Regions from separate parts of the Homo sapiens genome. Here region 1 is reported to be linked to region 2. The links are microRNA targets in miRTarBase. Many come from high-throughput screens and were not tested one by one. Region 2 holds a microRNA gene; the other region holds the end of a gene's coding sequence.

The links. Region 2 holds the annotated microRNA hsa-miR-7706 (UGAAGCGCCUGUGCUCUGCCGAGA, at 1,424-1,447, shown strand). A microRNA usually pairs through its seed, bases 2 to 8, with sites in the 3' UTR of a target mRNA and lowers its output. Matches are read on the target gene's strand: a 7mer-m8 pairs with bases 2 to 8, a 7mer-A1 pairs with bases 2 to 7 and ends in A, and an 8mer does both.
Region 1: the mRNA of ZNF124 is a reported target of hsa-miR-7706. Seed matches in the 3' UTR shown: 7mer-A1 at 1,507-1,513.

The regions. Positions count from the first base shown.
Region 1 is chr1:247,153,730-247,157,139 of GRCh38, reverse strand. It overlaps ZNF124 (zinc finger protein 124), which reads left to right. Exons shown (of 4, transcript NM_001297568.2): 4 at 1-2,151. The coding sequence ends at 574. Among named protein-coding and RNA genes, the nearest start is that of ZNF124, 17 kb to the left of the region's middle.
Region 2 is chr15:85,379,216-85,382,625 of GRCh38, forward strand. MIR7706 (microRNA 7706) reads left to right here and starts at 1,381; the gene lies at 1,381-1,447. It overlaps AKAP13 (A-kinase anchoring protein 13), which reads left to right and starts at 1,388. Exons shown (of 37, transcript NM_007200.5): 1 at 1,388-1,583. RefSeq lists silencers at 1,239-1,318, 1,699-2,268, 1,925-2,092.

The sequences.
Region 1 (3,410 bases), not on the chromosome of region 2:
TTCCCGTTCTCTTAATAGACATAAAAGGATTCACACTGGAGAAAAACGCTATGAATGTAAGCAATGTGGGAAAGCCTTCAGTCGTTCCAGTCACCTTCGTGACCATGAAAGAACTCATACTGGAGAGAAACCCTATGAATGTAAGCACTGTGGGAAAGCCTTCCGTTACTCCAATTGCCTTCATTACCATGAAAGAACTCACACTGGAGAGAAACCTTATGTGTGCATGGAATGTGGCAAAGCTTTCAGTTGTCTCAGTTCCTTGCAAGGACATATAAAGGCTCATGCTGGTGAAGAACCCTATCCATGTAAGCAATGTGGGAAAGCCTTCAGATACGCCAGTTCCCTTCAGAAACACGAGAAAACTCATATTGCACAGAAACCCTATGTATGTAACAATTGTGGTAAAGGCTTCAGATGTTCCAGTTCCCTTCGTGACCATGAAAGGACTCATACTGGAGAGAAACCCTATGAATGTCAGAAATGTGGCAAAGCCTTTAGTCGTGCTAGTACCCTTTGGAAGCATAAAAAAACTCATACTGGAGAAAAGCCCTATAAATGTAAAAAAATGTAAAGGCTTTAATCACTACAGTTTTTGTCAAAAACATGAACAGTCACATACTTGAGAGAAACTGTGAATGTAAGGTGTAGGAAAGTACTTAATTTTCCCAGATTTCCTCAAATACATGAAACGAATCAAACTGGAGATAAACCCTATGACTATAAGCAATAAGGTAAAGCATTCAATTTTTCCATTTCTTTTTGAAAACTTGAAAGGACTCACTGAAGAAAATCCATATGAATGTTTAAAATGTGGTAAGGCCTGCAGTTGTTCCAGTGGTATTTGATGGTATAACATAACTCATTCTAGAGAAAAACTTTATGAAGGTATCGAATGTGAGAATGCCTTCATTTATCCTATAACTCACTCAGAGACACATGGTAACACATACTCCAGATTGACCTTATAAATAAAAGAATGCCCACCAGATTGAAATCCTAGAAATACAGAAAATTCTGAATTTTAACAATTACTTTAAAGGTCATGTGAAAACTCCCACTGGAAATAAATCCTGTAAATGTAAATATTATGGAAAACCTTATGGAAAATAATTATAGTACAATTCTCAAGAAAATTCACTATGTGAATGAGATGTTTTAGGAGCTATAAATAAATTGAATATATTGGTTGCTCATTTTTGAAGAGAGTCTCTAGAATATAGATTTTCACTTCTTTTGAAAAAAAAAAAATTGAGGTGAGACTTTTTTTTTTTTTTTTGAGATGGAGTCTCACTTTGTCGCCCAGGCTGGTGTGCAGTGGCACAATCTCAGTTCACTGTAAGCTCTGCCTCCCAGGTTCACGCCATTCTCCTGCCTCAGCCTCCTGAGTAGCTGGGACTACAGGTGCCTGCCACCATGCCCAGCTAATTTTTTGTATTTTTAGTAGAGATGGGGTTTCACCGTGTTAGCCAGGATGGTCTCAATCTCCTGACCTCGTGATCCGCCCGCTTCAGCCTCCCAAAGTGCTGGGATTACAGGCGTGAGCCACCACGCCCAGCTGAGGCAAGACTTCTGTAAGTATTCTTCAAGCAGTAGTACAAGAGTTAAATATGTATTCTTCTTTTTTAAGCTGGTAAATAAATTTCCTTTTTCTACCCATTTTAAAGTGTGTTGGTTATATGGGTAAATTGAAATGTATTTCTTTTCCTTTTTTCTTGCATAGCCATTTTAAAAAATATTTTTTAAATATTTAAAGTATAAAATATTTTTAAAATTTTTTAAAAATTTTGTGGGTTACACAGTAGATGTGTGAAATGTATTTGTAGGTTTAACTTCTGTGTAGTTTAATTATTTTGTTATTAATTGGCCATTGATAAATGAGTCTATTTTCTTTGCTAATAGAGTTGCTGTCAATTTGTAAGTATGTAAAGTTTATTATAGAGTATATTCTCACGTGAATTATTATTTTCATCTGTTGTTCTTTACATTGTCATTATTTTTGGCTATTTGCATAGGTAACATTGGTTTAAGGAGAGAGACCTGTGATCGAACAGTGTCTTGTGTCTAATCTGAGAAAGAAAGCATCCAGTCTTATCATCATGTATGATGTTAGCTGAGGGTTTTTAAAATAAATTCCTTAAAGCAGGTTGAGAAAGTTTCCTGCTGTTCATTATTATTGAATATTTCATTGTCAAGTGTTGTTGAAGTTTTTCTCATGGTTTTTGTGCATCTATTGGAATGATCTTGTGGTTTTTCAAATTTATTCTGTTAACATGGTATATCACATTAATTGACTTTCTAAAATAAGAAATTGGGTCTAACTTTGTCACCCAGGCTGGTCTCAAACTCCTGGGCTCAAGTGATTCTCCTGCCTTGCCCTCTCAAAGTGTTGGGATTACAGATGTGAGCCACTGTGCCCAGCCAAATTGACTTTTAGATGCAAAAACAACATTGCTTTTTTGGGGGGTTAAATCTCTCTTGGTAATGAAGTGTAAGTCTTCTTATATATTGGTAAATTCAGTTTTGTAGCATCTTTTGAGACATTTTGCATCTATATTGAAAGAAATTTGAGTACCCTAGCATAGTTTATAGTGCTATATACTATATAGTGTTATTTCATATATATGTAGTTTATTAGTTCATTCTTGAACTGCTATGAAGAAATTCCTGAGACTGGGCAATTTACAAAGGAAAGAGATTTAATTGACTCCCAGTTCAGCATGGTAGGGAGGCCTCAGGAAACTTACAGTCCTGGCAGAAGGTGAAGGGGAAGCAAGGCATCTTCACAAATTCACAAGGTGGCAGGAAGGAGAAGTACAAGCAGGGAAAATGCCAGATTCTTATAAAACCATCAGATCTCATGAGACTCACTCATTATCATGAGAACAGCACGGGGGAAACCGTCCCCATGATTCAGTTACCTCCACCTGGTCTTGCCCTTGACACGTGGGAATTATTACAAGTCAAGGTGAGATTTGGGTGGGGACACGGAGCCAACTTATATCTGTGTGTGTGTGTGTGTCACACATATGCGTGTACAAGGAGACATCCACTCTGGGGAGAATTAGGTATCTCAGACAGTTGCCTGACAAGTGATTGTTGTGTAGGAAAGCATAGTGACCTTGTGTTTTCTGTGCTGCTTTTTCTCTTGCTGCTGTTATGTGCACTCTTCTGATGAGGTGCATATCCATAGATCCTCATGATTTAGGTGCAGATGAGCAAAGACAAGGGAAATAATCACTTTATATTATCCTCTCCCAGTACCCCTCCCAGTACTAAACTCCTAGCCAAAGGGGGCTTTCGTTAGCATGGCTGCTCACCAGCATTCTAAAGATATAATCCTGTGACCACAAGACTTGATGAACTTAGACAAAATGACCTTCTTATGGACGCTAACTTCAGCAAGATTT
Region 2 (3,410 bases):
AAAAAAAAAAAGAAAAAAGAAAAAAAGAGAAAATATATGTGAGCACCAGAGCTCAACATTAGGAGCATTTCTGAGATTTGGAGCTATTCAACAATGGAAGTTCCTGGCACACACATCAGGTATTCACAATACCCTTTCTCAGGTGTTTGGTCACTGCTAGTGAGCCGCCTGGATCAGTGTTTCCCAAATGGCAGTCATTTGCATCTTTGCTTTTCTTTTGGGGGCGGGGGGGTAATATCCTGTACCAGATTTTTGAAAACTGACATTAAAAATACATGTTTAAAATGTGCAAAGTGCACTAAAGTGCACTGGATGTATTTTTTATTCATGTATATACTTTTGTTATCTATCACCCAGGTCAAAATACAGAACCAGCACCCCAGAGGGTTCCCTCCTCCTCCTTCCCAGCCAATAATCTTCTCCTCCTACCTAACCGCTGTTCTTACTTCAATCACTATCAACTAGTTTTACACGTTCTTCAACTGCATATAAATTGTCTCAGTTTTTTACTTAACACTTTTCTTGAAGTGCTTTCGTTTTTTGCCACTTTTTATTTGACCTAAGAAATAACATTAATGAAACAGTGGTTTGACGTGATAGGCATTTCCCTCCTAATGCGCACTAAAAACACTTAACTATTTGAAAAAAGAAGTTTCTTCGTGTACCAACTAATATATTCTCCGCCCTGTCTCCAGAAACCGCCCTTCCTCTGTGGGCCGGTGGTTACCGGCACCATTGGTACACGGACCACATTTTGTTTCCCAAAGCAACCAGATGATTTTTGAGGTCCTTTGCAGCTCGAACACGGAATGACTTTGTGGTGATCGAGTAGCCAGAAGTTCACGGAATGCACTGTCACAATTGTGATTCCGCCATAGCGCCGTGCATCCATCCAACACTTGTTTAATACCTATATTTAATACCTAATACCTTAGACGGTCCTAGGCTGTGGACACAGAAGACTAAACCCCACTTCCTGAGTTGAAGTGGGGGAAATAGAGGAGTAAATCATTTCACGATGTGTGGTTAAGTGCTGCAGCTCAGGTAACCACCAGTACACAGAGGAAGGGCGGTTTCTGGAGACAGGGCGGAGAGGAGACCGTGGGTGGGCATTTCCCAGAGCAGCCTCTGCCAGCCACCCTACTTTGATCACTTTGCCGCCGAGCAGCAGCGGCGGTCAACCTCAGCCTCCCTTAGCAACCTGAGTGCCCCGTCCAGGAGCCTTACTATTGGTCTCATGCAGCGAGATGGGCAGTTCTGCCGTGCAATCCCAGCTCGCAGTTCTTGCTCCGCGTGTACTCACGGGAGGACTCGCAGGCGTTACCGCCTTCCCGCGTGCCCCGCCCACCCTCCCGAGCGTCTTTCGGCGCATGCGCGGACTGGAGCTGTGTGCAGGGCCAGCGCGGAGCCCGAGCAGCCGCGGTGAAGCGCCTGTGCTCTGCCGAGACTGCCGTGCCCATTGCTCGCCTCGGTCGCCGCCGCTTTAGCCGCCTCCGGGGGAGCGGCCGCCTATTGTCTTTCTCCGCGGCGAAGGTGAAGAGTTGTCCCAGCTCGGCCCGCGGGGGAGCCCCGGGAGCCGCACGGTGAGAGCGCAACTTAGTTGGCGGAGTTGGGGGAAGTTTTGTGATTTGTGGGTCGGGGCGCGGAGCGCGGCCAGTCCCCTGCGGTTGCTCGGTGGGGCGGGCCCCGGAGGAGGGGCGGGGGCTGCGGGGGTTTCGGGGGCGGGCTGGACAGACGGGTCGCCGGGCGGCGCCGGGACCTCAGGTCTGCGGACCCCTCCTCCCTGCGCATCGCCCTTCTCCCGCATTGTCTGCTTGGGGCTCGGCGCGCCTCCCACTCCGCAGCCCAACTTAGAGGCCGTCGCCGCTTTCCGGGTGGGGGGCGCGCCCGGCCGCCGATGCTACCTCAGGCGCTCCGCCCCCAGCGAGGCCCCGAATCCTTGCCCCGGGTCCCCGGGTCGGCGCCGCCGGGGCGGGCTCACTCCTCCCCTGGGGCGGGCGGCCGCGGTGTGGAGTCCCCGCCGTGGAGTCCGCGCCGTGAACAAGTGCTGCGGGCGCGAGGGAGCGGCTCCCCGGGGTCGACGCGGACGGTAAACACGTCGGGCCGCGCCTGCCTGTCGGTGCCTCTCCGCGGCTTCTCGGGGGTGCGGCCCAGCTGACCCGCGCGGGTCGCAGGCGAGCGGCCCAGGAGACCCGTGCGGTCCCCACGCGCTCTGGGACCCGTGCAGCCAGCCGGCTCAGCTTGCAGCTATACTTTGATACCAAACAAAACTTTTTTTTTTTTTTTTGGTAAATACGGTTTACTGCTTTTTTTTTTTTTTTTTTTTTGCAAAGCCACGAAGTATGTGAAGTTGAAAAAAGGAAAAACCCTAAAACTTTTTAAAAAAAAATCAAGAAAGGGGGTAGATAGGTTTGTTTTGTTTTGGAAATAGTTCTTATAGCAGAGTGATACCGTCCCATTTAATTTTCTAGATCCCGGAATTCACAATGAAAATTGGATTGAGCGGTATTTTGGTGTTCATTCTTTGCTAATGACACTCCTTAATGAAGTTATTTGGAGAGTTTATTGCTTCAGTACAGTAAAAACCAGTGTGCCTTTTTTTTTGTTAGTAGTCCCCCCCACAACAAGTGTTTTATTTTTAGAAGAAGCATTTTCTTCAGTTTTTCTGAACTGTTGGATTGCGCAGATGAGGACAAACGGTGCAGTTCTTGAAAGGTCATTATTGGCAAGTTTGTGAAGAAGCTAAGATCAGTTGAGATAAATCATTGTTACTATTCTTGTATTCTGTCGTGGACTCTTGGGGATTTGCAGGCTGCATTAAGTACAAGTTTTGTCAAGTTTGGGTGCACATATTACACTTAATTTGGTTTGTGTGGCTTATTATATGAACATGATTCTGTTTCAGTTCCCCAGATGGAACTAGCTTAAATGTCTGTCATTCATAGTGGAGCAAAATGGCCAGAGTGTCATTTATTGTTAACTTCAGTTGTATTCCTTTACCATCTGCTAAATGAAAAAGAAAAATTTGAGAAATACTGTGTGTGTCAGTTTGCTCAGAGTGATTTCTCGTGCTAAGTGAGTCCTGTGGAGAAGCGTTCCTGGGCTTTTCTGGTTTGGTGGGCCTTGTGTTATAAAACCAATTTTCTTCACCTGATGAAGCTAAAGACAAATTTTCTTCAGGTACAGCCATTGCACTTTTAAATTACAGAGCCGCTTTTAGGATTCACAGTACTCGCTCCATGGCTTCCCTTCCTGGTTGTGTGGTTTTGTGTGTGTGATTGTGGGGAAGGAGGTTGACAGAGGTTGGAAGGGATTGTCAGGGAGGGACATAATGTAAGCAAGTACTACTTACAACATGACGTGACGAGTGCACTAGTTGCTTTCCTTCTCTGGGCGGTGATGGCATGTTA